Linked DNA regions of Homo sapiens: regions 2, 3, 4, 5 and 6 are each linked to region 1. Evidence: fine-mapped expression QTL. A gene starts in region 1. Each other region holds a variant in brackets. All regions are shown on one strand. Distances are from middle to middle. Region 1 holds the start of ZNF736 (zinc finger protein 736). Region 2 overlaps ZNF736 (zinc finger protein 736). Region 3 has its middle 53 kb from the start of LINC02848. Region 4 holds the start of LOC105375321 (a long non-coding RNA gene). Region 5 overlaps LOC105375321 (a long non-coding RNA gene). Region 6 holds the start of ZNF735 (zinc finger protein 735).

What was found. PIP is the estimated chance that this variant, and not a neighbour inherited with it, causes the effect. A credible set is the group of variants that fine-mapping cannot tell apart.
Region 2: its variant is the best candidate, but not a certain one, in a credible set for the expression of ZNF736 in whole blood (INTERVAL, PIP 0.67).
Region 3: its variant is the best candidate, but not a certain one, in a credible set for the expression of ZNF736 in visceral fat (GTEx, PIP 0.88).
Region 4: its variant is the best candidate, but not a certain one, in a credible set for the expression of ZNF736 in whole blood (INTERVAL, PIP 0.60).
Region 5: its variant is the best candidate, but not a certain one, in a credible set for the expression of ZNF736 in nasal epithelium (TOPMed, PIP 0.67).
Region 6: its variant is the best candidate, but not a certain one, in a credible set for the expression of ZNF736 in whole blood (INTERVAL, PIP 0.72).

What each region holds. Positions count from the first base shown.
Region 1 is chr7:64,311,220-64,316,389 of GRCh38, forward strand. It overlaps ZNF736 (zinc finger protein 736), which reads left to right and starts at 2,742. Exons shown (of 4, transcript NM_001170905.3): 1 at 2,742-2,934. The coding sequence starts at 2,932. RefSeq lists an enhancer at 2,795-2,974.
Region 2 is chr7:64,333,999-64,339,168 of GRCh38, forward strand. It overlaps ZNF736 (zinc finger protein 736), which reads left to right. Exons shown (of 4, transcript NM_001170905.3): 2 at 2,261-2,387; 3 at 2,889-2,984. Among named protein-coding and RNA genes, the nearest start is that of ZNF736, 23 kb to the left of the region's middle. The variant A/G (reference allele first, on the strand shown) is at 2,228.
Region 3 is chr7:63,844,387-63,849,556 of GRCh38, forward strand. No RefSeq gene overlaps it. Among named protein-coding and RNA genes, the nearest start is that of LINC02848, 53 kb to the right of the region's middle. The variant G/A (reference allele first, on the strand shown) is at 2,321.
Region 4 is chr7:64,366,827-64,371,996 of GRCh38, forward strand. It overlaps LOC105375321 (a long non-coding RNA gene), which reads left to right and starts at 3,696. Exons shown (of 2, transcript XR_007060355.1): 1 at 3,696-4,774. The variant A/G (reference allele first, on the strand shown) is at 2,778.
Region 5 is chr7:64,374,445-64,379,614 of GRCh38, forward strand. LOC105375321 (a long non-coding RNA gene) reads left to right here. Exons shown (of 2, transcript XR_007060355.1): 2 at 123-5,170. Among named protein-coding and RNA genes, the nearest start is that of ZNF736, 63 kb to the left of the region's middle. The variant A/G (reference allele first, on the strand shown) is at 3,083.
Region 6 is chr7:64,203,452-64,208,621 of GRCh38, forward strand. ZNF735 (zinc finger protein 735) reads left to right here and starts at 3,752. Exons shown (of 4, transcript NM_001159524.1): 1 at 3,752-3,790. The coding sequence starts at 3,752. The variant A/G (reference allele first, on the strand shown) is at 2,814.

The DNA of each region.
Region 1 (5,170 bases):
CCCGACAGCACAGGGTGTTGCCTCCATCCTGGACACATTTTCCAGTTATCTGGTGATGGGAAACCCTGCCAGAAAGGATTATATGGATGGGAGTGAGCCTGGGATGGGCAGGGCTGGAACCAGAATCCTGAGGCTTGGGAGAAGAGAATCAGGACTACACCCTTAGATCTCAGCACTTGGCAAACTTCCTCTCATGAGAGCGTCACGGCTGCCTCTGTGAGCTGAGGTATCAGGCCCCTCTTCCCTATGAATGTTGAAGATTCCACACCAGCCACCAGTCCCTGTTCCCTGAGTGATGAAGCTGCAGAGCTGTCTGCTTGCAAAGCCCAGTGAGGTTTTGCCTGAGCTGGACTCAGACTCTCCCTCAGATGGTGCCAATGGAAGGATAGTAAACTTAGGCCTCTCCAAGGGCAGGCAGCTCGTATGTGGCTGAGCACTTTTGTTTTTTGTTTTTTGGTTTTTTTTGAGATGGAGCCTCCTCTGTCACCCAGGCTGGAGTGCAGTGGCATGATCTTGGCTCACTGCAAACTCCGCCTCCCAGGTTCAAGCAATTCTCTGCCTCAGCCTCCTTAGTAGCTGGGATTACAGGTGCCCACAACCACGCCCAGCTAATTCTTGTATTTTTAGTAGAGACGGGGTTTTGCCATCTTGGCCAGGCTGGTCTTGAACTCCTGACCTGGTGATCCACCATCCTCAGCCTCCCAAAGTACTGGGATTACAGGTGTGAGCCACCGTGCCTGGCCTGGCTGAGCACTTTTTTAAATGGGAGCCCTCAGTTTTTATGTCTGTCATCAAAGAGAGTTGGGGTGGGAGGTCCCTGAGCCTCAGCTCCCATTGTCCCCTTTGAACCCCAGAACCTGCTGCAGACCCAAGTCCTGCTTTGTGCACATCCCCTGCCCCTGGTGGCCCTGGCAGTAATGCAGTATGAAGAGTGTGGGGAGGGGACCTAGTCAGGGTCCAAGGGGCCTTTCTGATGACCATTGGCTGACTTCTAGGGAAATGTAACACCCAGAAAGAAAAGGAAGGTGAGCAGCTGGGGCAACATTGGGAGAGAGTGGGGAGGTGAAAGTCAGCAACACCCTGTGCTATCAGGTGGTGATGGGGATGAGTATCCACTTTTGGGTGTCCATTCAAGGCCTGTCCCTGAAATCTCATAAGCCCCCATCTCCTGGACTCTCCTATCCACATCTTTTACTTGAAAAAGCCAAAGACACGCAGCTGCCTCTCTCCAACTCTCTCCCCTCTTCCTAGCTGGCCTCCAAAAACATGAAGCACTCCCTTATTAACTCTGTGGTGAGATTTTAACAAGTCACAATGTTATGTGGTCCCTAGCTCCACCGTTTCCCAAATCCACTCAGCCCAGCTCTTCCAGGCCTTTACTCTGATTTCTCTTATAGAGGCATTTCAGGGACTGTTGCCACAGGAGGGAAGGGCTGAGGGAGAAAGGCCCCTTGCTCTTTTGATGTGGAGGCCTCCAGCTGGGAGGGAGGAGCTCTTCCCTCTGAATCCCTGGAGCTCTTCCCCATCACAGGTACCTGCCTTTTTGCTGCTTTAGCCTCATCTGGGCTTTCTGTGGTTTCTTCTCTAGGGTGGCCAACTTGGGTGTCTTCCTCTGCCAGGGTCAAGGACAAGGTCAGTGATATTATGCTCCCTTCACCCAGTTATGCCCAGTTACATTGACCTGGTACCCTGGATAACTGGTGTGAGTCAAGCTGGTCCAGTGCTCCTGCCACCTCCAGTAAACTCTGATTCTAGATTCACTCCCTGCTGCAACACTCACTGTGTGTGGAACCTTGGGCATGCAGCCAGGCCTCCCTGAGACTGTTTCTCAACTTGAAAGTGTGATGGGAACCACACCTACCTCACTGGGCCTCGTGAGGACTCAGTTATATGTAGCCGTCACCATTGTTCTCATCATCATCTCTCTCAGGAAGAGCCAGGCACAAGCACTCTCAAATTTTTCTCCTTTGAAGCTCCTCATTACCCTGTGAGGCTCATCATCCCTACATTTTTTAGATAAGAAAACAGAGGCCCAAAGAGGGCAGTGACTTGCCCAGGGCTCTACAGAAGAGGCCGGCTCCTCCCCACACCTGGAGGCCCTGACCTAGCTGACTTTACCCCACAGCCCAGCACTATCCCTGACTAGGGTCCCATCTTGGTTCTCCATGCTTGTTTAGGTCCTCAGGCAGGCTCAGCTTTGGTGGGAAAGAGACAGGGTGTTTTGGGAGGCCTGGGCGAGTGGCACCTCTAACCAATCTGCTAGGCCCTCACCTCTCAGTCTCACTGAGACACTCCATTAATTGGAAGCAGACCCAAAATTGCTTCACAGACTGAAGGTGATAATTGTCTACAGCCAGCTGAAGCAGCTGCATCTCCTGGAGGACTTTGATCTCCTGCAGCTAAAGGGAAAGACAGGATGCTGAGACAGGGCCTGCAGCATACACATAACTATAATTCAGAATGTAATATATACACACACACGAAAATATAATCAGAAAGTGATATAATCTTATATGCAAGGTTAAATACAAATGTCTCTCAGGCAGGGCCAGGCCCCCAGCACAGGGAGGACTCGCCTGAAAACGCTGCAGGCAAAAACCTGTCACCCTTGCCTCATTCAGCCCAGTGTCTGATTACATCTTCTGTCACTTAGGATTGAAACGGGTGGGGCCTGGAGCCCTAGCCAATCAGTGGCGCCAGCGTGAAACTGTCCAATCAAGTGCGCAGCTACAGAGGAAGAGGCGGCCTCTTCAATATGGCGGGGCCTTTGTCTCCTAGCTTCCGGGCTCTGATCCTAGTTCGCGTCTCCACTGTTCCATCTCCTCCGTTCCTGGAGTTCCTCGGTGACTCTACTATAGCTTCTGTTATCCTGTGACCTGCAGGTACTGGGAGATCCATAGGGAGGACGGCGGAACATCTGGAGGCTGGGAAATGGTGAGTGCGTGGAGTGGGTGTCCCGAGAATGGGGAAGAGGCTGTTTGAATCCGGCCGGAACCGGCTGCGGTGGTATCTGGGCCTTCTCGCGGTCTGCTCTGGAGTCTGCATCCCCGAGTCCCCGCGGGCACAGCTCAATCCTCATTTCCCTCCATCGCAGATTAGGGGCTGAGCCAGCAGCCAAAACGCTACGTCTTGTTTTGTCCCTAAACTCGAATTTCTCCCCAGCTCAGATCCCTTCCTGGGCAGCTCTGTGCCGCAACCTCGAGTCTCCCTCCTCCAGATTGTGTGGGGGTGTTGGGAGTGTCATAAGACGGGAATTCTCATTTAGGGTCTGGAGTTCCTCCGTGGAAGAAGCAGTGGGCCGTGGGGTCCCTAGTCCCTCCTTTCTCCTTTTAAAAATAAAATCATGGCCCTTTTTTAAATTTATTTATTTTTGAGACAGTGTCTCACTCTGTTGCCCAGGCTAAAGTGCATTTCGGTTCACTGCAGCCTCCACCTACTGGGCTCAGATGATCCTCTCACCCCAGCCCCCCAAGTAGCTAGGACTAGAGGGGTGCGCCACCACGCCTATTTTGTTTTGTTTGTTTTTGTAGAGACAGGCTTTTGCCATGTTGCTCAGGCTGGTCTCGAACTCCCCGAGCTCAGGTCTCAGGTGATCCGCCCGCCTCGGGCCTCCTAAAGTGCCGGGATTACGTGCATGACCCACCACCCTAGCCTAAATTGAGGCAACTTTAGGATATAATTTGGATGTGTTTTCCAGCCCAAATCTCCTATTTAAATGTAATCCCCCATGTTGGAGGTGGGGCCTGGTGGAAGGATTGTGGGCCCGGATTTCTCACGAATAGTTTAGCACCATTCCTCTTGGTATTGTCCTCTCAATAGTGAGTGAGTTCCCTGAAGTTCATCATTTAGAAGTGTACAGCACCCCACCTTGCCTCTTTTTCAAGCTCTTGCTTCACCTTCATCCATGATTTTAAGCTTTCTGGGTGGGGCCTCCCCAGAAGCAGACGCTGGTGTTATGCTTTCTATGCAGCCTGTGGAACCATGAGCCAATTAATCCTCTTATAAATTACCCAGTCTGAGGTATTTATAGTAATGCCAGAAGCGATTAATACAAATAGTTTACTTGCACAAACAGTAATTTATCAATCAGAGAACACCCAGCTATGATTTGTTGTTTGGGGGCTCAAAGGAGGGTCTTGGAACAAAAGGTTGTTTTTTTTTTTTAAGAGGTATGAGGAAGCAAACCAGATTCAATATTTGATTGGTTACAGTTACGTATTGCATTTGCAGCCCTCCGGTGGAAATGTCCTGGTTATGTAATTAGAGCTTTTTATTGGCAGCTTGTGGTTGGTTAAGCCTAAGTTGTTTTGTTGTTGTTGTTGTTGTTTCTCAAAGTTAATAATTTACCAGAAATTCCTTCGACGTAGTTAGGTTTCCTTAGGCAGAATCCCAGGGCACCATGGCCACTTCAGCCTAATTGCTAGCTATTTAATTATTTTAATGCTCCACAGGGTCGTTGGTTTTCTCTGCATTTTTCAAATGTTTGGCAAGCAGGGTCTCAAATCTAAAACTGTTCTCCCAGCCTAACTGTTCTAGGGACTGTATAAAATTCTAAATTTCCAATTTCTTTCCCACATTCCCAAATGCCAACTATCCCTCTCCAAATCACATTATGAACTATCAGTTCTTTATTTAATTTTAAAACGGATGTGGCATTTTGTTTATTTTTGTTTAACAGAGCCGTGGGTGGCTCTTTTTAATATATTAGTCTGTTTGTGCATATTTCACAGGACAGAAAAGCAAAGAGTAGTCACCTGACACTGCGCATCTCCTCTCATCTTCTCTAGGCACGCGCGCCTTCCCAGAATGTCTTTGGATCCTTTGCAGGGTGATGTGTCCTCAGTCACTCTCCTGTGTTTTCCTGGTCCAAGTATTACAGCTTTCTGGGGATGATCCAAGATACCCACAAGGACCATATCTCTTGGAGTGTCTAGCAAACATTAGCCCCTGGGTCATCTCCTTTCAGAGAAGAGCCTGAGGCATTGGGTGGAGCCTCTCAGGGGAGCAGCTGGATGCCCTCGTGCTGAGAGCAGTTTCCTGATTCACCCTTCCTCTAAAAAGCTAACTGCTTTAACATTAAGATTTTTTTCCCCTCAATCCTAGTTTTCATTTCTTGCAGACACATTGGTGGTCAACCAATCAGGTGCTGATATTGAGGGGAAAAGGCACA
Region 2 (5,170 bases), 23 kb after region 1:
AACCATCTTATCTTTGACAAACCTGACAAAAATAAGCAATGGGGAATGGATTCCCTATTTAATAAATGGTGCTTGGAAAACTGGCTGGCCATATGCAGAAAACAGAAACTGGACCACCCTCCCTTACACCTTATACAAAAATTAACTCAAGATGGATTAAAGACTTAAATGTAAAACCTAAAACCATGAAAACTCTAGAAGAAAACCTAGGTAATACCATTTAGGACATAGGCATGGGCAAAGACTTCATGACTAAAACACCAAAGGCAATGGCAACAAAAGCCAAAATTGACAAATGGGATCTAATTAAACTAAAGAGCTTCTGCATAGCAAAAGAAACTGTCATCAGTGAACAGGCAGCCTACAGAATGGGAGAAAATTTTTGCAATATATGCATCCGACAAAGGGCAAATACCCAGAATCTACAAGGAACTTAAATAAATTTACAAGAAAAAAGCAATCCCATCAAAAAGTGGGTGAAGGATGTAAACAGACACTTCTCAAAAGAAGATATTTATGCAGCCAACAAACATAAAAAAAAGTTCATCATCACTGGTCATTAGAGGAATGCAAATCAAAACCACAATGAGATACTATCTCACACCAGTTAGAATGGCGAGCATTAAAAAGTCAGGAAACAGATACTGGCAAGGATGTGGAGAAATAGGAATGCTTTTACACTGTTGGTGGGAGTGTAAATTAGTTCAACCATTGTGGAAGACAGTGTGGTGATTCCTCAAGGATCTAGAACCAGAAATACCATTTGACCCAGCAATCTCATTACTAGGTATATGCCCAAAGGATTTTAAATCATTCTACTATAAAGACACATGCACACATATGTTTATTGCAGCACTATTTACAATAGCAAAGACTTGCAGCCAACCCAAATGCCCATCAATGATAGACTGGATAAAGAAAATGTGGCACATATACACCATGGAATACTATGCAGCCATAAAAAAGAATGAGTTCACGTCCTTTGCTGGGACATGGATGAAGCTGGAACCATCATTCTCAGCAAACTAACAAACTAACACAGGAACAGAAAACCAAACACCGCATGTTCTCACTCATAAGTAGGATTCAAACAATGAGAACACATGGACACAGGGAGGGAAACATCACACACCAGGGCCTGTCAGCAGATGGGGGCAAGGGGAAGGAGAGCAATAGGACAAATACCTAATGCATGTGGGGCTTAAAACCTAGATGACGGGTTGATAGGTGCAGCAATCCACCATGACACATGTATACCTATGTAACAAACCTGCACATGTATCCCAGAACTTAAAGTTTAAAAAAAAAAAAGTTTAGCCAAAAATTAGAGATTACAGAACATGGGAGATATTTGTAGCTTACATTTTGCCTAAAACTGATGTTTCTTCATGACTAGACTCAGATTGTTGACCCTTTTTTGTGTTAATGTTAATAATAGCACAGTAGTCTTGTATCCTTCTTTGTTAATCAGCACCTGATACAAATTTCTTTTAATATAGTTGATCTTAATTTATTTACTTGGTAAATACGCTTTCTGACAGATATTTTTCACTCTACAGTTCATTATTTTTCTCTATTAATAGATACCTTGGGGAGTTTATCAAGTGATGTGCAAAAACAAGATTTAGCCATGTTTAATCTGACAGCTCTTCTTTCTTCCTACCTTCTCTTTGCATATCGCTTGCTATGGAAAATGAAGGCTCTCGTCTTTCTTTACTGGTCAAATAAACTAAAAACCTAGGCTGTGCCACTTACTGAATTTTTGACAAAATATTCTCCTTGGGCCAGAAGCAACGATACCACTGGCAAACTTCTTACAAATTTGGAAACTCAAGCTTTACGCTAGATCTTCAGAGTCAAAATCTAGGTTTTAACAAGATCTCCTGTTCATTGCTATACACAATAAGATTTGAGAAGTATGCTTTTAACTCACCATGAAGTTTCCATATGGGAACTATAGACAGCTTTTCTTGTATTATGTAAATGTAGCATTAAGAAATGTACATGCCTGTGTTAATGTCCTTTATTTTATACTGTATCATCAAGAAAAGTATTGCACATACACTGGTTTCATGATCTTATGCCATCTTTTCTCAGAGTTAAAAATACACTAGAGAATATTTCTGTGCTAGAAAGTATCCTACTGGATAACTCCAGTAACTCATATAAGTCAGAACCAGCTATCTTTATTCTCATTTTACCTGATGTCAAATCAAGAATTCTTTCT[A/G]TGGTCACTTGGTAAATATGTTTTGTTTTCCAGGGAGTGTTGACATTCAGGGATGTGGCTGTAGAATTCTCCCCAGAAGAGTGGGAATGCCTGGACTCTGCTCAGCAGCGTTTGTATAGGGATGTGATGTTAGAGAACTATGGAAACCTGGTCTCCTTGGGTGAGAATAACTTCAATATACAACTCATATTCTACATTAAATATTTTATTTTCTTCTGATTTTTTTGGAGGTTCTGCTTTGCATAAATGAGTTTCAGAATCCTGCTTCAAAAAGAAAAAATTGGGTATCTGTTGAGGTAGAAAATATAATCTTCAAGATGTTTCATCTTAACATTAATCTTTCCCTTTTTTGAGCTCATCTGTATACTTCAGTCTAAATTAGTGGTAATATCAGAAATTTAGTAGCATAAAATATTGTTACCCACACCTAAAAATGCAATTTTCACAGCTGATTTTTGATTCAGTATTACTGGGTAATAGAGCTAAGAACCACAAATTTAAAATACTTTCTAAATATTCTAAAGTTTCTGTTAGGAAACAGTATATTAAAATTAATTTTCTAGAGTCTTCTATAATGTTCTCTCTTCTCTACTGAGCATAGTACTAGATTAGTAATCAGATTATCCTAGCAAGAGTCATGTTTTTTTTTCTAATAAAACAGGTCTTGCTATCTTTAAGCCAGACTTGATGACCTGTCTGGAGCAAAGAAAAGAGCCTTGGAAAGTGAAGAGACAGGAGGCAGTAGCCAAACACCCAGGTAGGTGGGAGTGAATGAAGCAGATGACACAAATGACGGATCCCAATGTCAAGGAGGAAGCCAAACCTTTAAACATGCTTCCAGAAGCTCTGCTCCAGTGGAAATGGTTTCTGAGAAACCTTCATTTCTTTCTCTTGCTTTAACATAGGGACATTTTTTGTCCCATTCTTGTGAATTTTCCAAGCACTGTACTTCCCCTTCAGTAATGTGTGTGTGTGTGTTGTGTGTGTGTTTTGTTTTGTTTTTTGTTTTTAGTTTACAGCAATAATGAAAGTCTTTCATGGCTTGACAGAAAATGTGTGATTTGACTGCTTTTCCATTGCTTTGGGGAAACAGCAATATCTGTATTTTTGAGAAACTATATTAAACCATTTTTTTAAGTTCTGTTTTTGGATAATGTCTAAATATTTAAGTTTTGGTGATATTACAGTTTGGATCAGAAATCCCAGGAATACCACAAAAAGATGTGTGCTTCCTGCTTTATAATTTTCTATTCTATGGAACCTTCAAACGTGATTTTACAGAAATTTATACTCAGTAATTATATCAAAACACTAAGCATCTCCCTAAATGAAACAAACTCTAAAATTGTGTTACTTCAAATGTTATTCTTTTCATATAAACAAATGTTGGTAAATATGGCCAAATTCCTCAACTGTATGTATTATAGTTCATTGTATCTACTTCATACGTTTATTAAATATACTATGTCATTGGGGAGCTTAAAACATTGCTGAGTATTTTTTTTGTTTTGTTTTGTTTTGTTTTTTTTGGTTTTTTTTTTTTTTTGAGACAGAGTTTTGCTCTTGTTGCCCAAGCTGGAGTGCAATGGCACGATCTCGGCTCCCTGCAACCTCCGCCTCCCAGGTTCAAGCGATTCTTCTGCCTCAGCCTCCCTAGTAGCTGGGATTACAGGCATGTGCCACCACACCCGGCTAATTTTGTATTTTTTAGTAGAGACAGGGTTTCTCCATATTGGTCAGGCTGGTCTCGAACTCCCAACCTCAGGTGATCTGCCTGCCTTGGCCTCCCAAAATGCTAGGATTATAGGTATGAGCCACTGTGCCCAGTCTGCTGAGTACATATTAAACTCTCAATTTTAACTTTATTTTAAACGACATCGTTTTGTGGTTTTATTTAGTATGAAGCTCACTGTGATTGTGTCATTCATATGTATATATATAAACACATTTATATACGCATGTGTATGACACACATATAATCCCAGTAAGGCGAATTTTTTCACAAATAATAATTGAATACCTATGTATTGTATACAGTGTATTGATTTTGTATGTGTATACATAAAGAAATGATTAATACAATCAAATTAATGAACAAACACATTTATGACCTTACAAGTTACCTTTTTTGTAGTGAAAACAATTAAGATCTCTCAGCAAATTTTCAGCATACATAACAGTATTACTTTCAGTAGTCATAAAGCTGTACCTTAGGTTACCATAACTTGTTTGTCTTTTAACTGAAAATTTGTACCATTTGAACAACATACTCCACTTTCTCCACCTCCAGGGCCTAGCACTCACCTCTATACTCTCTTCTTCTAGGAGTCCAACCTTATTATATTCTCCATAGAAGTGAGATCATACAGTATTTGTCTGTTTCTGTGATGTTTCACTCGGCATAACATCATCTAGGTCCATCCATGTTGTAGAATGTCAGGGTTTTATTATTTTTTATGGCTGAATAATATTCTATTTTGTATACATGCCATGTTTTTTTTTTGTGCAGTCAGTTTCCACAAACACTTTAGATTGCTTTTGTATCTTGACAATTGTGAAAAATGTTTCAATGAACATGGAGGTGCAGGTATTTCTTTGAGATAGTAAATTTATTGTATATGCAGAAATGAGATAGCTGAATTGTATAGCAGTACTATTAAAAAATTTTTAAAAGAACCTACATACTAGATTTCATAATGTCTCTAAAAAATTGTACGTCACTAAAATTGTACAGCATCTTTTCTTTAATATATTGTCAACACTTGTTATAAATCTTCTTGATATTAGCAGTCCTAACAGGTATAAAGTAATATCTCACAATGAATTTAATTTGCATCTGCCAGATTGGTGACATTGAGCACCTTTCTATATACCTGTTGCCCAACTGTATGTTTTCATTTGTAAACATTTATTTAGTCCTTGGCTTATTTTTAAATTTTGTTA
Region 3 (5,170 bases), 470 kb before region 1:
AGATCAAGGCCAACCTGGCCAACATGGTGAAACCCTGTCTCTACTAAAAATACAAAAATTAGCTGGGCATGGTGGTGCACGCCTGTAGTCCCAGCTACTCGGGAGGCTGAGGCAGGAGAATTGCTTGAACCCGGGAGACGGAGGTTGCAGTGAGCTGAGATCACACCACCACACTCCAGCCTGTGCAACAGAGCAAGACTCTGTCTCAAAAAAAAAGAAAAAAAAAGAAATGTTAACTGTTTAGAACAGCTTGGCATACTGTGTCTTGTTTGTTTTTACTTTTTTTTTTTTTTCTTTGAGACAAGGTCTCGCTTGGTCACCCAGGCTGGAGTGTACTGGTGTGATCATGGCTCACTACAGCCTTGACCTCCCGGATCAATTGATCTTTTACCTCAGCCCCCCAAATAGCTGGGACCACAGGTGTGCACCTCCAAACCTGCCTAATTTTTATATTTTTGGTAGAGATGAGATGTCGCCGTGTTACTCAGGCTGGTGTCAAACTCCTGAGCTCAAGCAAACCCAAAGTACTGGCACTACAGGCATGAGCTCCCTGCCTGTCTAGTAATTTTTGTTTGGTTGGGTTTTTTTTTTTTTTTTTTTTTTTTTGAGGCAGAGCCTCACCCTGTCGCCCAGGCTGGAGTGCAATGGTGCGATCTCGGCTCACTGCAACCTCTGTCTGCCAGGTTCAAACGATTCTCCTGCCTCAGCCTCCTGAGTAGCTGGGATTACAGGTGCCTGCCACCATGCCCAGCTAATTTCTGTATTTTTAGTACAGACAGGGTTTCAACATGTTGGCCAGGCTGGGCTTGAACTCCTGACGTTGTGATCCGCCCACCTTGGCCTCCCAAAGTGCTGAGGTGTGAGCCACTGCACCCAGCCCTGGCTAGTAATTTTTTAATAGTGATTATAATTACAAGCAAAGGTGTAATATATGTTTGTAAAAGTATTAAGTGAACTAGGCTGGGCATGGTGGTTCACGCCTGTAATCCCAGCACTTTGGGAGGCTGAGGTGGGCGTATCACGAGGTCAGGAGTTTGAGACCAGCCTGGCCAGCATGGTGAAACCCCGTCTCTACTAAAAATACACAAATTAGCCAGGCATTGTGGTGCGTGCCTGTAATCCCAGCTACTTAGGAGGCTAAAGTAGGAGGTGGAGGTTGCGGTGAGCCGAGATCGTGCCACTGCACTGCAGCCTAGTCGACAGAATGAGACTCCTTCTCAAAAATATATATACATTTATTAAGTGAACTTTCCAAAAAAGTGGACTTCAGCCAAGTGCAGTAGCACACTCATGTAGTCCTAGCTACTAAGAAGGCTAAAACCTTCACTTGATAGCCTTATTGAGAAATATAAGCCTATATTCAAAAGAGACTTTTCATTCCTTTTAAAAATGTCACTTCTGTTTTTATTAACTTGTGATGAGGCATATGTTGTTGTTGTTTTCTTTGTTTTATTTATTTATTTTTTGAGACAGAGTCTCACTCTCTCACTTTGTTGCCCAGGCTAAAGTGCAGTGGCACAATCTTGGCTCACTGCAAACTCTGGCTCCCAGGTTCAAGTGATTTTCCTGTCTCAGTCTCCCGACTAGCTGGGACGACAGGCGCACACCACCACGCCCGGCTAAGTTTTGTATTTTTGGTATAGATGAGATTTCACCATGTTGGCCAGGCTGGTCTTGAACTCCTGAGCTCAGGTGATCCACATGCCTCAGCCTCCCAAAGTGGTGGGATTACAGGTGTGAGCCACTATACCTGGCCTTGATGAAGCATATCTTAAATAAAAGGTGTGGAGTGTTTTTTTTGTCGTTGTTTTTTTTTAGAGACAGGGTCTCACTCTGTGGCCCAGGCTGGAATGCGGTGGCATGATAAAGCTCACTGCAGCCTCAAACTCCTGGGCTTAAGCAATCTTCCCACCTTAACCTCCTGAGCAGCTAGGTACAGGCACATGCCACTGTACCTGGCTCACTTTTAAATTTTGTAGAAACCAGGTCTTGCTCTATTTCCCAGGCTAGTTTCGAAATCATAGCCTCAAGCATTCCTCCTGCTTCGGCCTCCCAAACTACTGAGATTACAGGTGTGAACCACCATGCTCAGCCTTAAATAAGATTTTAAATCTTGAAAATAACAAAATTTCTCTCTTTCCTCTTTCATGTATAAAGTACATCATTTCTAGAATTAAGGATTTTGTTATAAAGACCAGAATATCATCAATATGAAAAATAATTTCCCAGTTGATAGTTCATTTGAATTGTAGAACTCAGTTGCAAAGATAAAGGTAGACAGGGCAGCTGGGTGCGGTGGCTCACGCCTGTAATCCCAGCC[G/A]TTTGGGAGGCCAAGGTGGGCGAATTACCTGAGTGGTGTTTGAGACCAGCCTGACCAACATGGAGAAACCCTGTGTCTACTAAAAATACAAAAAAATTAGCTGGGTGTATTGGGGCATGCCTGTAATTCCAGCTATTCAGGAGGCTGATGCAGGAGAATCACTTGAACCTGGGAGGTGGAGGTTGTAGTGAGCCGAGATCGCACCATTGGACTCCAGCCTGGGAAACAAGAGTGACTCTGTCTCAAAAAAAAAAAAAAAAAAGGGTAGATAGGGGTGAACACATATTTGAAACTGGATATGTTTAATGGTGATGTTGCAAGTTATGTATCTTCAGAATGATTTCTTTCAGATAAAAAACACATAAGATTTTACTAGGTTATAAAAATCTTAAATACCTGGGCTTTTTTTTCTTTGTATTTTTGAAAGAAGGAACATTTTTTACCTGATAATTTTTATTTATTTAATTTTAATTTTAATTTTTTTTTTTGACAGAGTTTCGCATTTGTTGCCCAGGCTGGAGTGCAATGGTTTGATGTCGGCTCACCACAACCTCCGCCTCCCGAATTCAAGCAGTTCTCCTGCCTCAGCCTCCCTAGTAGCTGGGATTACAGGCATGCGCCACCATGCCTGGCTAATTTTTGTATTTTTAGTAGAGACAGGGTTTCTTCCTGTTGGTCAGGCTTTTCCGGAACTCTTGACCTCAGGTGATCCACCTGCCTCGGCCTCCCAAAGTGCTGGGATTACAGGCATGAGCCACTGCACTGTGCCTTTATTTAAAAATTTTAACTGTTTCTCCTTGTGGTGTTAGCATCACCAGTGGAAGCAGCATGACCTTTAATGTCACACAGTCCTAGGTTTAAGCTCTGCTCCTTCCATTTACTCACTGTGACCTCAGGAAATTTAGTTGAACTCTCTGAGAATTATTTTCATAATTTGTAAAATGGGAACAATAACCCAAAGTTTGTTTGATAGATTACACAATTTATAATTGACTGAATTTATCCCACATATAGTGGATGTTCAATAAATGGTAGCTATAATTGTTATTGTTTTGGTTATGATTATAAATCCACCAGCCTGGAAAACATGGTGAAACCCCATCTCTACAAAAAAATACAAAGCTTAGCCAGGTGTGGTGGCGTGTGCCTGTAGTCCTAGCTACTCAGGAGGCTGAGGTGGGAGAATGGATTGAGTCCTGGAGTTCAAAGCTGCAGTGAGTCACGATTATACCACTGCACTGCAGCCTGCTTGACAGAGAAAAGATCCTGCCTCAAAAAATAGTAATAAAATTAAATGAAAAACTGACTGTATGTGGTGGCTCACACCTATAATCCCATTAGTTTGGGAGGCTAAGGTTGGAGAATCCGTTGATCCCTGGAGTTTGAGACCAGCATGGGCAACATGGTGAGATCCTGTGTCAAAACTAAAAAATAAAATAAAGTCCTTTATAGCCTGTTAATTTGGTTAGGTTTTTAGTTGCATTTATTATTCTATGTGTGTGTGTTTTTTGTTTTTTTTTGTTTATGAGACAGAGTCTGACTTTGTCACTCAGGCTGGAGTGCAGTGGCGTGATCTCGGCTCACTGCAGCCTCACTTCCCAGGCTCAAGTGATCCTCCCACCTCAGTCTCCCAAGTAGCTGGGACTACAGGTGCACACCACCATGCCCAGCTAATTTTTATATTTTTCACAGAGACAGGGTTTCTCCATGTTGCCCAGGCTGGTCCCAAACTCTTGAGCTCAACTGATCTGCCCACCTTAGACCAGAATTTAGGCATGACCCACCACTCCCGGCTGCTTTTATTACTTGTTACAGATCATTTAAGGGTAGAGTAATATTCACCTTTTTGTTCTCCATAGTGTCTAACAGAGTATTTTGTGTTTACAACTCAATACATTTATCTATTTAATGAATAATTGAATTCATACACATTATAGCTTAACTTTAGTTAAGTCAGAACTACAAAATTTGTGTGATGACATCTTGGTATAAAGGAAAAACTACTTTCTCAAATTATTGGGCCAGCCTTGATGTTCTCTGTAATTAATTGCTATGGCAAATCAAGATACATATTTAATACATTTATTTTAATTTGATTAATTTTTCTCTGATATTTTACACTTAAAAGAACCCAAACCTACAGAAAAGTTATCTTTCTTTTTGATGATGATTGCATAGACTACTTGTTCCATTTTTTAATAAAATGTTTTGATTTGAAGGTCAATTGATTTGGGTAACTGACACTAAATTTCAGTAAGTTTCAAGTAGGATGTCCAATCTATGTTTAACTGTTGGAGTCTTTGTTGGAGACTGTCCAAAGCTCCGAACTGGAGGAGATGAGCAGATTGGAAAAAATATTGTAGTTGGGTAAACTCAGAGGTTAAATTGATCTGCTGCATCCACCCCAGGTGGTATCAGGGAATGAAAGAAAAAAGAATGCCTTAATCATTGGCTCACTGCAAAAACAACATAGAAAAAAAAAAGTGGTATAATAGAGCAATGGGGAAGCATTCAAAAAACATTACTGGGTTGAAGTATTTTGGTGAACCTTATTTGAAGGTTATTTGCTGATTAAGATAAGCAAAAGCTATTTCAAAATGTTAATTTTTTCCCTCCACCCATGAAATCTGGTTTATGCTCTCACTTAAAGGATAGTGTAAAATAGCTGAACTGAAGATTCGAACATTTCACCAGAAATTTAAGCCACCTGTCCAGGGTTTATTTAAAGCCTCTGATATTTGATCACTTCACTAAAACAACTTAGGACCATGCTGACCATGCTGATTTAGTTGGGCCACATTTTCTAAGATGCTATACATGATCACAAATGATATCATTATACTACAATGT
Region 4 (5,170 bases), 56 kb after region 1:
AAGAGGAAGAAGAAGAAGAAGAAAGAAGGAAGAAGAAGAAGAAAAGAAGAAGAAGAAAGAAGAAGAAGAAAGCCTGTTGCTTAAAAGTACACTGCTGACAGGGTGAATAAAAGGGGGGGAAAGGCTTAAGTGTAGGGCAGGGAAGAACATTTTCATTCTTATGCAAATGATTCCTTCAACAGAGGGAAAAACTTAATTGTTATTGGATGAGGCTGGATCGCTTGGCCGGTGAAGGGGAAGACACCGTGAATGCCTGGCATTTTCCAGCCCAGAGGAGATGGGGGTGAGGAGCCGCCATTCACCTGTCCATCCCGCATATGCCTGGGGCTGTTGGGGTGGTGCACAGTTTCCTCTACCCTCGGAGAAGTCCAAGGATAAAAAGGCTTACAAGCAAAGTAGAAAAAGATATTTTGGTTTACATCTTACCCTTCCTCAAGCCCCACATCTAGACACCGAAATGTAGAACTTTTTCCGTAGTTCGTCTAAAACTAGGATCTTATCACATGAACAGGAACGAATAGGCTAACAGACATACTGAAGGGTGAGGAGTAAAGTTTATTGGGCAAAAAGGAAAAAGAAAAAAAACTGTCAGCAAAGTGAGAGGGACTCCTGTTAACGGGCCCCCACCTCACATATTGATGAACACCAGGTCACCACATAGCAACTGAAGAGTCCAGTCTCCTCCTCTGCCAAAAGGTGTGAATTTCTATGGCTCCAACTTCTTTTCCCAGTGCACAGGTGGGCATTATTCAGAGAGAAACAGTCAGGAAAGGGCGGGCTTCATCTGAAACCAGCAGTCCAGTTTTTCAGCCTTCAGGCTGTTTTTTAGGCTTGAAGGCGGAGTTTCGCCCAGGACCTTTGACTGTCTCCTGTCTCTGACTCAAAATAGGAAAAGGTCCCTTGGCTATCTACTGTCTCTATCACTCAAAATGAGAAAGGAACAGTCTTTTTAACAAATGGGTTGGAGAATACTGAATATCCAAATGACAAAAAATAAAGGTGAACCTTACCACAAGCATGAACTTAGAATGAAGTAGGACTTATTTTTTATAGCTGTAGTAAGTGATTTTTTTCTTGAATTTTTTTTCAGATGGCTTATTCTTGTCATGTAAAAATGTTCCTACTAATTTTTGTATGTTAATTTGGTATTCTGCCACTTTACTGAATTTCTTTATTAATTCTAACGATTTTTAGTGTAGTATTTAACTTTTGCTATATAGACAATTATGTGATCTGCAAACAGAGGCAATTTGACTTTCACCTTTTTTATTTGGATGTCTTTTATTTATTTCTCTTGCATAAATGATCTGACTGGGACTTCCAGTACTCTGTTGAATAAAAGTGGTAAAAGTAGACATCATTGTCTTGTGGTTTGGTGATGCATGATTTAGCACACCTGTGAGGCTGGGACTCCCCTACTGGAACACAATCTTCAGGTGGGATTGGGCATCTTATACATGGATCTTGCCCATTGTTGAGATTGTGAGTCCTCTGCTTTGACCAAAATCACAGGAGGTGTTGACTCACACACACAGAGCCAGGACTTGAGTGGGACTGTGAAACTTATTTCTGAATATTTCGAAGTGTGTAATTAGACCATAAAAGCCCAGCTCCTGAATAACGACTCTTCTTTTCAGGTCATGACCACAGATGAAACTGTGACATATGTGGACCATACACCTAAGCAAAGGTGCCTGGGCCTGCCTACCAAGGGCAATTTTATGAATCACTGGGACCAGCACCCAAGTGATGAGAATTCTTTACCTGATCCCTGCCTATAAAAAGCATTGTGGCTGGCCGGGCGCAGTGGCTTATGCCTGTAATCCAAGCACTTTGGGAGGCAAGGCGGGTGGATCACCTGAGGTCAGGAGTTCAGGACCATCCTGGCCAACATGGTGAAACCCCGTCTCTACTAAAAACACAAAAAATTAGCCAGGCATGGTGGTGGGCACCTGTAATCCCAGCTACTCCAGAGGTGATGCAGGAGAATCATTTGAACCCAGGAGGCGGAGGTTTGCAGTGAGCCGAGATTGCACCATTGCACTCCAGCCTGGCAACAAGAGTGAAACTCCATCTCGGGGAAAAAAAAAAAAAAAAGCATTGTGGCTTATATCTAGGTCCATCATGTAAGTGAAGTGACTCCCTTCTACTGCCTTGGCCCTGCACTTATGATGCATTGTGACACATAACTGGGTACTGCACCCAGGTGATATGACTCTGCGCTTTGGGTTGTGCCAACAGGAAGCTTTGTTAAGCACCAAGGTGATTTTTCTCCTCTCTTGCCTTGCCCTGACCACAGAGGAGATTGTGACATATTGCTAAACCCAGTGCCAAGGTGAGGTCACTTTCATATCTTGGTTTTGCACATAGCGGCCATTGTGACACAGATCTAGGCCAATTGCCTAGGTGAAGTCAGTGTCCTCACCTTACTAACACCTGCCCACAGGGGGAATTTTGATATATCACTAAAACCAGCATCCAGATGATGTGACTCTTCTTCCAGGGTCCTGCTCACAGAAAGATTGTGACATCTCACTGGACCAGCACCCGCGCAGATGATGTGACCTTCCTGCTTGTTCTCTGTTCACAGGTGATATTGTGCCATATACCTGAGGCCAGATAAGAGAACTAATCCTGACTCTTAAATGTGGAGCCAGGTCATATGCAAAATGGTGACTCCCATTCCTGGAACTTTCCACCAGTGTTATTGTGACATATACCTTTGCCTAGCTCCTGAGTGATTTAATAATCCTGCCTAAGTGTAACCCACAAATGAG[A/G]TTTGGAAAATTACCTCAGCTGAGCATCTTGGTGATTTGACTCTCCTGTGTTAACAATATCCTCAGGAAGAATTGTAACATGTCTCTGGACTTAACCATCTAGGTTACCTGACTCTCCTCTCCTGCCTGGACCCTGCTTGCACTAGGGATTGTAGCATTTCTAAGCACTGCGTCCAAATAATATGATTCTCTTGCCTGGTCCTTTCAACAGGAGACATTGTGACATATCTCTGGGCCTATCATTTAGGTGATATGAGTCTCCTTTCTGGACACTGCCCACAAGGGGCATTGTGCCATACATCTGGAGGTAACCCCCAAGTTATGCAACTTTTCTGCCAGGAACAGGCCTATATGGAGAATATTGGAAAATTTCAGGCTCAGCATTTATGTTATTTAGCTGTCGTGCCTGTTTCATTACTGTAGAGTAAATTGTGACATACACCTAGGCACAGTTCACAGGCATGATAATGACTCTCATATGTGGATCCCACAAATAGGATTAATTTTGACTCTCATAACTTTCTTTAGAAACACAAGTGATTAAATCTCTTTCTGTTAAAAAAAAAAAAAAGGAAAAGAACAAAGAAGATTATAACAGCCTCAGATATTTTATAAAGCCCTTGGCTTGTACAGAGCGTGTCATAACAACCCAGCAGAAAGGTGAAATAGTGAGTCTCTTTTTTTTTTTTTTTTGAGACGGAGTATTGCTCTGTCGCCCAGGCTGGAGTGCAGTGGCGCGACCTCGGCTCACTGCAAGTTCTGCCTCCTGGGTTCACGCCATTCTCCTGCCTCAGCCTCCCAAGTAGCTGGGACTACAGGTGCTCGCCACCATGCCCGGCTAATTTTTTGTATTTTTTAGTAGAGATGGGGTTTCAGCGTGTTAGCCAGGATGGTCTCAATCTCCTGACCTCGTGATCCGCCCGCCTCGGCCTCCTGTAGTGCTGGGATTATAGGCATGAGCCACCACACCCGGCCAATTGTGAGTCTCATATGCACACCCAGCTGACAGTAAGGACTGTCACCGTCTCACATATATGAAGCCAACTGTCAGTCATGAAAACAGGACATGTGGTATTGTAAATCTTATCCTGGAAATGTTCTGCCATTGTGATTGTCGTATAAATCTTTGCCGAGCACTTGTGTGATTTGACTCTCCAGACTGGGTCCAGCCCACATATGTTATTGTGATCTCTACCTGGGCCAACCTCTAGGTGATGTGACTCTCTTGCCTGGGCCCTGCTTTCAGTAAGAATTGTGACATATCACTAGATCCAGCACCCAGGTCATGTTACATTTTCTCCTGAGCCATGCCCACAGAAATCATTGTGACATATCACTGTGTCAACCACTTAGGTGATGTAATTCTCCTCATTAGAATGGGCCCTGCACCCAGTGGGGGATAGTAACATATGGCTGGGTCAGGCGCACAGGTACACTTTTGCTAGGGTCATGTCCTAAAGAGGGCATTGTGACAAATCTCTGAACCTATCACCTAGGTGATGTTGCTCTCCTGCTTGGGTCCTGCTTACCTGGATAGTGACATATTGCTAGGCCAGGCACACAGATGTTGGTACTCTTTTGCCAGGGCCATGCCTCAAGGAGGACATTGTGACATATCTCTGGGCCTGTCACCTAGGTGATGTGACTCCCTGCTCAAGCCCTGCCCACTTGGAGCATTGTGACATAAGGGTAGAACCTGCACCTTTTTGTTATAATTCTCTTGCCTGGGGCCTGTCCTAAGGGAGCCTTGTGACACATCTCAGGACCCAGCATCAAGATGATGTGGCTCTTCTGCTTGCTTTCACCTCTCATGTTAGATTGTGTTATATACCTAGGGAAGCACCTAGGCGATATGACTCTTCTCTTCTGCCCGAGCCCTGCCTAGTTGGGACATTGGGCCATATATCTGAGCCCGTGTCCTAAGTGACGTGACTCTTTTCTTCTGCCTGAGCCTTTACAATGGGGTGATATGACATATTGCTAAGCCCAATACTTAGGTAATATGACTCTTCTTTTTGTCTCAAACCATGCCCGTGAAAAGGAATTTTGATGTATTGCAGGGCCCAGCACCCAGATGCTGTTCCTCTTCTGCCTGGGTCCTGCATAAGAGAGAATTATAGCATATTGCTGGGCCCCCACCTGATGATATAACTCTCCTGCCTGTGCCAGAGAAGCAGAAGGTGTTTTTACATATCTTGGGCTCATTCTGTAGGTGTTTTTGCTCTCATCATTTGTCTGGGTTTTTTTCCACATTTGGGATTGTGTCATATTGCTGGGTCCAGCACCCAGTTAATGTAACCCTCATTTTTAGACCCTGCTTAGAGAGGGCATTGTGACATATTGCTTGCCACAGCACCTAAGTTGTGCTACCCTCCTGCCACTTTTTTTTTTCT
Region 5 (5,170 bases), 63 kb after region 1:
AACCAGCATACAGGTGATGTGACTCTTCTTCCAGAGTCCTGCCTACAAGGAGGAATGTGGCATTTCACTGGAACAGCACCCACTCAGCTGATGTGACTTTCCTTTCTTCTCTCTGCCTACAGGTAATATTGTGCCATATACCAGAGACCAGATCAAAGGCCTAATAAGGACTCTTGTACCTGGAGCCAGGACTTGTGCAGGATGGTGACTCTCATCCCTGAACATTTCCACAGGTGTTATTGTGACATATACCTGTGCCCACCTCCTGAGTGATTTAATAATCCTGCCTGTTATAGCCCACAGATGACATATTGACGTATACCTGGGCCAAGAACCTTGGTGATTTGACTCTCATATCTTAACAGTGTCCTCAGAAGGGACCGTCACATATCTCTGGACCCATCATCTAGGTTATGTGACTCTCCTCTCCTACCTGAACCCTGCTTCCAGTGAAGAGTGTAGCATTTCTAAGCACTGCATCCAAATGACATGACTCTCTTGCCTGGGCCCTTTTAACAGGAGTTGTGACATATCTCTAGGCCCATCACTTAGGTGATGCGACTCTCCTTTCCTGCCTGGATGTTCTCCACAAGAGGCATTATGCCATAGAGCTGAGCCTAGCACCCAAGTTTTGTGACTTTTCTGTTAGGGCCCTGCCTACAAAGAGAATATTGGAATATTTCTGGCTTAGGATTTAGGTGATGTGGTTGTCCTGCCTGTTTAATAACTACAGAGGGGATGGTGACACATACCTAGGCACAGCTAACGGGCATGATAATGACTCATATGTGGACCCAGCCAATAGGAGAAATTTTGACTCATAACTAGGTTTAGGGACATGAGTGATGTAAAGGGTCTCCTTCTGGTAAAAAGGTCACAGAAGATTATAACACACACATATTTTATAACACCCTTGGGTTGTATAGAGAGTGTCAGAACAGGGCCTAGCACATGGAGAAAATTGTGAGTCTCATATGCACACCCACCTGACAGTAAGGACTTTCACCATCACAGATGGATGAAGGCAACTGTCCTACATGAAAACAGAACATGTGTGGTATTGTAAATCTAATCCCTAAAATTTTATTTCATCGTGATAGTCATGTGATATAAATTTCATGTGATATAAATCTTTGCCAAGCACCTGTGAGATTTCACTCTTCAGACTGGTTCCAGCCTACATATGGGATTTTGATATCTACCTGGGCCAACCTTGAAGTGTTAAAGAACTCTTCTGCCTGGGCCCTACTCTCAGTAAGAATTGTGACATCACTGGATCCAGCACGCAGCTGCACCATGCCCACAGACATCATCGTGACATATCTCTGTGTCCATCACTTAGAAGATGTAACTCTCCTCTCTGGAAAAGACCCTACACACAGGGCAGAATAGTGACATATTCCTAGGCCAGGCACACAGGTGATGATACTTTTTTGCCAGGCCATGCCCAAAAGAGAACATTTTGACATATCAGAGGGCCTATCATGTAGGTGATATGGCTCTTCTTGGGACCTACCACTTGAATAGTGACATATTGCTAGGCTATGCAAAAAGGTGATGGTACTCTTTTGCCAGGGCCATGCTTTAAGGAAGGCTTTGTGACATATCTCTGGGCCTATCACCTAGGTGATGTGACTTCCTGCTTGGCCCTGCCCACATCGAGCATTGTGACATAAGGGTGGAACCTGCACCTAGGTGATGGAACTCTCTTGCTTGGATCCTTTTCTAAGGGGGACTGGTGAATATCTCTGGACCCAGGACCAGGTGATGTGGCTCTGCAGCCTGGGTTCTGCCCACATATTAAATTGTGACATATACTTAAAGAAGCACCTATATGATATGACTGTCTTCTTCTGCCTGAGCCCTGCCTACTGGTGACATTGGACCATATCTCTGAGCCCCTGACCTAAGTGATGGGACTCTCTTCTGTCTGGGCCTTTACAATGGGAAGATTGTGACATGTTGATGAGCCCAGCACTTCGGTATTGTGACTCTCGTCTTGTTGCTGAACAATGCCCGTGAACAGGACTTTTGCCGTATTTCAGAGCCCAGCACCCAGTTGATGTTACTCTTCTGCATAAACAGGTCATGCATAAAGAGGGAATTATGGCATATTGCTTGGCCCAGCCCCCTAATGATGTGACTCTCCTGCCTGTGCCAGAGCCACAGAAGGTATTTTGGCATATCTTTGGCCCATTTTGTAGGTGTTTTGGCTCTCATCAGTTTGCTGGGTTTCTTCCACGTGTGGTTGTATCATATTGCTGGCTCAAGCCATCAGTTAATGTGAGCCTCTTTCCTAGGCCCTGCCTAGAGAGAGCATTGTGACATATTCCTTGGCAAAGCACCTAAGTGATGTTAACATTCTGCCTAGATTTTTTGCCCACAGATGGGATTATGACATATACCTTGCTTGAGTTCAAAAGCATGATTATCAAGCTTATATTGGGATTCAGCCAATAGGAGATACTTTGCCCCCTACCACTAGGTTTATGTCAATAGGTAAGGTCCTTCATTGCATATTTGTACAAAGCTCACAGAAATTTACAACATTAACTCATATCATAAAAACTTTTTGGGTGGTACAGAGAGTTTCATAACAGGGCCCAGCAAAAAGTTAAGATTGTGACTCTCAACTACACACTCAGGTGAAAGTAAAAGTTGTTACCATCCTACATTTACAAAGCCCATTGTTGAGGTCCTGAATCTAACAAGTGAAGACAGCACAAAGTTGGAATTGTGACTTTCTTAAGTGATTCTGGTCACAGTTGGGATGGTGACTCATTTCTGGACCCAGCTCATAGGCATAATAATGTTCTCATCCCTGAAGCCAACCCAAAGGAGAGATGTTGACTGTCATACCTGGGTTTAGGGTATGTGTCCACCTCATAGGTTATGTAACTCTCCTCTCTGGAATGGGCCCTGCACAAAGGAAGGATAGTGACATATTGCAAGGCCAGGCACAGAGATGAGAGTACTCTTTTGCCAGAGCCATGCCCAAAGCAGGGCATTGTGACATATTTCTGGGCATATCACCTAGGTTATACGACTCTCCTGCTTGGGCCCTGCCAATCTGGAGAGTGAC[A/G]TATTTCTAGGCCAGGCACACAGGTGATGGTACTCTTTTACCAGGGCTATGCTTCATGGAGGACACTGTGACATATCTCTGGGCCTATCACCTAGGTGAAGTGATTCCCTCCTTGGACCCTACCCACATGGAGCATTGTAGCATGAGCAGAGAACCTGTACCCAGGTGATGTAACTCTCTTGGCTGGGTGCTGTCCTAAGAGAGCCTTGTGACCTGTCTCAGGACCCAGCACCCAAATGATGTGGCTCTTCTGCCTGGTCTCTGCCCACATGTTACATTGTGACATATTCCTAGGGAAGCACCTATGTGATATAACTCTCCTTGTCTGCCTGAGTCCTGCCTGCTGGGGACATTGGGACATACCTCTGACCCCATGACCTAGATGATGTGACCCTCTTTTTCTGCCTCAGCCTTCACAATAGGAGGATTTTGACACAATGCTGAGCCCAGCACTCAGAATATGTTACTCTCCTCTTTTTGCTGAACCATGCCCACAAAAAAGGAATTTGGACCTATTGCAGGGCCCAGCATCGAGATGATGTTACTCTTCTGCCTGGGTTCTGCAAAAGAGGAAATTGTGGCATATTGCATATTTCTTGGCCCAGCATTCTTATGATGTGACTCTCCTGCCTGTGCTGGAGCCACCGAATGTATTTTGACATATCTTGGACCCATTATGTAGGTGTTTTGGCTCTTATAACTTGGCTGGGTTTTTCCACGTGAGATGGTGTCATATTGCTGGGTCCAGCACCCAGTTATTGTGGCCCAATTTCCTATACCCTGCCTAGAGAAAGCATTGTGTCATGTTGCTTGGCCCAGCACCTAAGTGATGTTACCCTCCTGCCTAGTTTTTGCCCACAAATGGGATTATGGCATATACCTTACTTCAGTTCACAGGCATGATGATTAAACTTATATTGGGATTCAGCAAATGGGAGATATTTTGCCTCTCATCATTACGCTTAGGGCAATAGGTAAGGTCCTGAGTTGCATATTTGTACCAAGGTCACAGAAGCTTACAATACTAACTTATATTGTATAAAGTCTTTGGTGGTAGAGAGTTTCTTAACAGGGTCCAGCAAAAAGTTCAGATTGGGACTGTCAATTACACACCCAGTTGAAATTAAAAGTTGTCACCATCCCACGTTTACAGTGCCCACTCTTGAGGTCCTGAGTCTAACAAGGGAATACAGCACAAAGTTGGAATTGTGACTCTTATACGTGGATCTGGCCACAGGTGGGATGGTGACGCATTTCTGGACCCGGCCCACAGGCATAATAATAGGTCTTCTCCCTTAACCCTGCCTAAAGGAGAGATGTTGACTATCAAACCTGGGTTTAGGGCAATATGTAAGATTGTGAGTCCATACGAGCATGTGGGCCTCAGAGAGGTCTGCAACTCTCATGCAGGTTTTATAAAGCCCTCAGATGTCATAGAGAGGGTTATACGTTGGCCCAGCACACATGTGAGATTGTGACTCTAATATACACACTCAGCTAAAAGTTAAAGGTGTCACCCTCAAAGATGATGAGATTGTGTCATATCACTGGGCCTAGTACCCAGGTGTTGAGACTTTATTCCTTAAATTCCTTTCCATGGGTGCATTGTTACATATCACTGCGTCAGAATCATATGAATGTGACTCTTCTGCCTGGGCCCTGTCAACAGGGGATATTATCACATATCTCTGGGCCTATGAGCTAGATGATGTGTCTCTCCAGCTTGTGCCCTGGGTTGTATGTATCTCCTTTCTATTCTGGACTCTGCCAAGAGAGGGGATTATTACATATTTATGAGCCCAGCAACTAGGTAGTGTGACTCTTCTCTTTTTCTTAAACCCTTTCTATAATAGGATTGGTGACATACTACTTGAGACTTTACCCAGGTGATGTGACTCTTCTGCCTTGTCCCTGCCCACAGGAGAAATTGTGCCATATACCTGGGTTCAGCTCACATGCACAATAATAACTCTTATACCTGGACCCAGCCAGTAGAGATATTTTGACTCTCATAGCCAATCTTACAGCCAAGGGTAAAATCCTGGTTCTTCCACTTGTATAAAGTTCACAGAGGATTATGACACAGGC
Region 6 (5,170 bases), 110 kb before region 1:
TCTGGGCAAGATGGTGGCCCAGAGTAACAGAAAAGATAAGAAGGAGAGAGAGAGAGAGAAAGAAGAGAGAGAGAGAAAAGCGTGGCCTATGGTGGAGCAGGAAAGGTGAGGAGCTCAGGAAAGCCAGAGAAAGACCCACGCATTGCAGTGAATCAAAAGTGTAGGTGATCTCTTGTTGTGAAAGAATCTTTTTCAGCAGTCCCATCTGCTCTCAAGTTTCCCACTTTAGGGAGGAAAAAGCTCCCCACGTTCCATGATCCTGTACTCGCCTAATTCTGTCAGCCACAGCCATTAGCAAAAAGTGCAAGGCAGATTAATCCAAAGACAAGGCCGGGTGCAGTGGCTCATGCCTGTAATCCCAGCACTTTGGGAGGCTGAGGTGGGTGGATCAGCTGAGGTCAGGAGTTTGAGACAAGCCTGGCCAACATGGTGAAATCCCATCTCTACTAAAAATACAAAAATTATCTGGGTGTGGTGGTGGGCGCCTGTAATCCTAGCTGCTCAGGAGGCTGAGGCAGGAGAATCGCTTGAACCTGGGAGGCGGAGGTTGCAGTGAGCCAAGTTCTTGCCATTGCACTCCAGCCTGGGTGACAAGAGTGAGACTCTGTCTCAAAACAAACGAACGAACAAACAAACAAACAAAAAATCACAAAGACAACAGTGGTTAACACTCCATAATGCCAAATCTAATCTTAGCTGAGAGGGACTTTACTGAGAGGGGCCTCTAACCCCCTAAATCTTAGGAAAGACTCTAACCTTTTGAAGTTGTGCCTCAAACACAAGTTTTGTCAAGTATTCTTGCCTTTTATTAAAAGAGACCTTTTATCTTATACGTCTTAGGAGAAACTCTTAACTCCACCCAATCCCATTCTTTACCTGGGTACGCCACCACTTGCAAACTCTTAACTCCACCCAATCCCATTCTTTACCTGGGTACGCCACCACTTGCAAAAAGTTAGCCAACTGGTGATTCAGTCTATTTCCTTTGGGTTGGGGGTTTCCTTAGTTTCGTCCCTTTGTGATTCAATGAAATGAAGCTTCCAGAAATGGTCCCAATCCAGAACCGAAGAGTGGGTTCTTGGATCTCGTATAAGAAAGAATTTAGAGCCAGGGGTGGTGGCTTCTGCCTGTAACTCCGGCAATTTGGGAGGCTGAGGCAGGAGGATCACTTGAGGTCAGGAGTTCGAGACCAGCCTGGCCAACATGGTGAAACCCCCATCTTTACTAAAAATACAAAAATTAGCCGGGCATAGTGGTGCATGCCTATAATCCCAGCTAATCCAGAGGCTGAGGCAGGAGAATCTCTTGAACCCAGGAGGTGGAGGTTGCAGTGAGCCGAGATGGCGCCACTGCACTCCAGCCTGGGTGACAGAGGGGGACTCTGTCTAAAAGAAAAAAAAAGAAAAGAAAGAATTTTGGGTAAGTCTGCAGTGCAAAGCAAAAGCAAATTTATTAGGAAAGTAAAGGAATAGAAGAATGGCTACTCCGTAGGCAGAGCAGCAGTGTGGGCTGCTCAACTAAGGATACTTACAGTTATTTCTCAATTATATGCTAACCAAGGGGTGGATTATTAATGAGTTTTACAAGAAAGGGGTGGGCAAGTCCCAGAACTGAGTGTTTCTCTTCTTTTTAGACCATGTAAGGTAACTTTCTGATGTTGCCATGGCATTCGTTAACTGTCATGGCGCTGGTGGGAATGTCTTTCACATTATAATTAGCGCGTAATGATCAGTGAGGATAATCAGAGGTCACTTTCACTCCCATCTTGGATTTGGTGGATTTTTTGGCTTCTTTACTGCAAACTGTTTTATCAGCAAGGTCTTTGTGAACTGCATCTTGTGCCAATCTCCTATTTACCCTGTGATTTAGAATGCCTGACCTCATGGAAAAGCAGTCCTGTAGGTCTCAGCCCCATTTTACCCAGCACCTATTCCAGATGCAGTTGCTCTGGTTCAAACGCCTCTGATATGGCCACAGAGTGCTGGAATATGGCTGGTCTGAACTGCAATGTGCTGGAAAGGTAAAATACAAGAGTACATTCAAAGATTTAGCTTCAAAAATGTATATGCTTTATTAACCATTACATACTAATCACATAGTAAAATAATAATATTTTGGATATGTTGGGCTGATTAAATTGTTACAGTCAATTCCACCTGTTATTCCACCTGTTTCTTTCTTTTTTATTTTGAGACAGAGTCGCTCCGTCTCTAGGCTGGAGTGCTGTGGCATGATCTCAGCTCCCTGCATTCTCTGCCTCCCGGGATCAAACAATTCTCCTGTCTCAGCCTCCCTAGTAGCTGGGATTGCAAGTGCCTGTCACCACACCCAGCTAATTTTTCTATTTTTGGTGGAGCCGGGGTTTCGCCTTGTCAGCCAGGCTGGTCTCGAACTCCTGACCTCAGGTCGTTCACCACCTAGGCCTCTCAAAGTGCTGGGATTACAGGTGTGAGCCACTGTACCCAGCCCCACCTTTTTCTTTTTACTTTTTAACATTTGGCTACTAGAAAATCCAAAATTTACATGTGGCTCATATTTTACTGCAGAGGATTGCCTCCTTTTTGAAATCTCAGGCTGCCTGCATGTATTAGTCCATTTTCACACTGCTATAAACAAATACCTCACACTGCGTAATTTTTTTAAGTGGTTTAATTGAATCATAGTCCTTCAGGGCTGAAAAATCCTCAAGAAAATTACAATCATGACCATGACAGAAGGTGAAGGGAAAGCAAGGCACATCTCACACGGTGGAAAACGAGAGAGAACCGGGAAGGTGGGGAGGGGAGATGTGCCACATTTTTAAACCATCGGGT[A/G]TCTTGAGAGCTCCCTTATTATCCCAAGAACAGGATGAGGATAATCCACCCCAATGATCCAATCACCTCTTACACAGTCCCTACCGTGACACATGGGAATTACAATTTTTTTTTTCTTTGAGACGGAGTCTCGCTCTGTCGCCCAGGCTGTAGTGCAATGGTGCCATGTCGGCTCACTGCAACCACCACCTCCTGGGTTCAAGCGATTCTCCTGCCTCAGGCTACCGAGTAGCTGGGACTACAGGCACGCGCTGCCACGCCCGGCTAATTTTTGTATTTTTAGTAGAGACGGGGTTTCACCGTATTGGCCAGGCTGGTTTGGAACTCCGGAACTCGTGATCCGCCTGTCTCGGCCTCCCAAAGTGTTGGGATTACAGGCGTGAGCCACCGCGCACGGACGGGAATTACAATTTGAGATTAGATTTGGGTGGAGCCACGGAGTCAAACCATATCACTGCAAAGGATCCGCAGCAAGGAAGGTCATAAAATCCGAAATTTTAAAATAATTGTCATTATATTATTTCAATTTGTGAATAACTATATTATATATCATTTATAAATGCATATGACGTTATACACAAGGTTAAATGCAAATATCCTCTGGTGTTGGCCTGGCTCAGATCAGGGAAGAAGCCCTGCCTGTAAAGGGTGCAGCTTAGGCTGTTATTTTTGCTTCATTCAGCCTAGCGTCTGATCAAATATTCCGTCACTCAGGGCGTGAAGGGTGGGGCCTGAAACCTTATCCCATCAGGGGCCATATATTAGAAACTGTATAATCAGGCATGCAGCTGGAGAGAACAGGACGCCTCCGTAATTTTACCGGGCCTTTTGTGTTTCTCTGCGTCCAGAGCTCCAGTTCTTCTCTTCACTGCTCTGCGTCCTCTGCTCTTAGAGGTCAAGCCACTGTGGCCTTGTGTCCTGCAGGTATCCGCAGATTTATGGCTAAAAGACCGGGACCCCCTGGAAGCCGAGAAATGGTGAGTGCTGGGTCTGTCATCGTGAGAGAGGGGTGGGAGGTGGTTGGAACCGGCTGAAAGTGGCTGCAGCAGGACCCATACTTCCTCGCAGTCAGCTCCGGAGTCTGAGGACCCAAATCCTCCTTGGCCCAGTTCGGCTGTTAGCCCCCTCCAGCCCTAAGATGGTGCCTGGGCCAGCGGCTGGGACCCTGGGAGTTCTGTCTTTTTCCTCTGCAGTGGCTTTGCCCTGGGCTGGAGCCCTCTCTGGGCAGCTCTGCACTCCCAGCGCCTCATCTCATCCAGATTGTACAGGGATTGGGAAAGTTATCAGGGGAGAATCCTGACACAGGGTGCAGGATTCATAAGTGGTAAGAGCTGTGGTCCCTGGGGTCCCTAGTTCCTCATTTTTCCTTTTAGAGATGTGTGGGAGTCACTGTAAAAATATTAGAGAATTTAATCAAAACGTGATTCAAGAATCATAGAGCGGGCCAGGCGCGGTGGCTCACGCCTGTAATCCCAGCACTTTGGGAGGCCGAGGCGGGCGGATCACGAGGTCAGGTGTTCGAGACCAGCATGACCAACATGGTAAAACCCCATCTCTACTAAAAATACAAAAATTAGCTGGGTGTGGTGGCACGTGCCTGTAGTCCCAGCTACTCGGTAGTCTGAGACAGGAGAATCACCTGAACCCGGGAGGCGGAGGTTGCAGTGAGCCGAGATCGCGCCATTGTACTCCAGCCTGGGCGACAAAGCAAGACTCCACCTCAAAAAAAAAAAGAAGAACCATAGAGCGCCCAGCTATGGCTTGTGGGTTGTGATCCATGGGAGAGACTTGAAGAAAAGTCTGTTATAAGTTGCATGATGAAGCAAACCAAATGCAATAATTGGTTTGGTACAGTTATTTAGTGTTTTTACTTGGAAGATCCAGGTGAAAATTTATTGGTTATGTCATCAGAGATTCATTGGCAGATTGTGGTTGCCTAGGCCCGAATATTTTCTTCAAGATAGTAATCTCCAATAAATGTTTTTTTTTTTTTTTTTTTTTTTTTTTTTTGGAGAGGGAGTCTCACTCTGTCCTCCAGGCTGGAGTGCAGTGGTGCAATCTCACCTCTTTACAACCTCTGCCTCCTGGTTCAAATGATTGTCCTGCCTCAGCCTCCCGAGTAGCTGGAATTACAGGTGTAGGCCACCACGCCCAACTAATTTTTGTATTTTTAGTAGAGACGGGATTTCACCACGTTGGCCAGGTTGGTCTCGAACTTTTGACCTCAGGTGATCTGCCTGCCTCAGCCTCCCAACAGGCTTGGGTTATAGGCATGAGCCACCACACTCAGTCAAGTTTTTTTTCTTTTACCTTTTATTTTAGGTTCAGGAGTACATGTGCAAGTTTGTTATATAGGT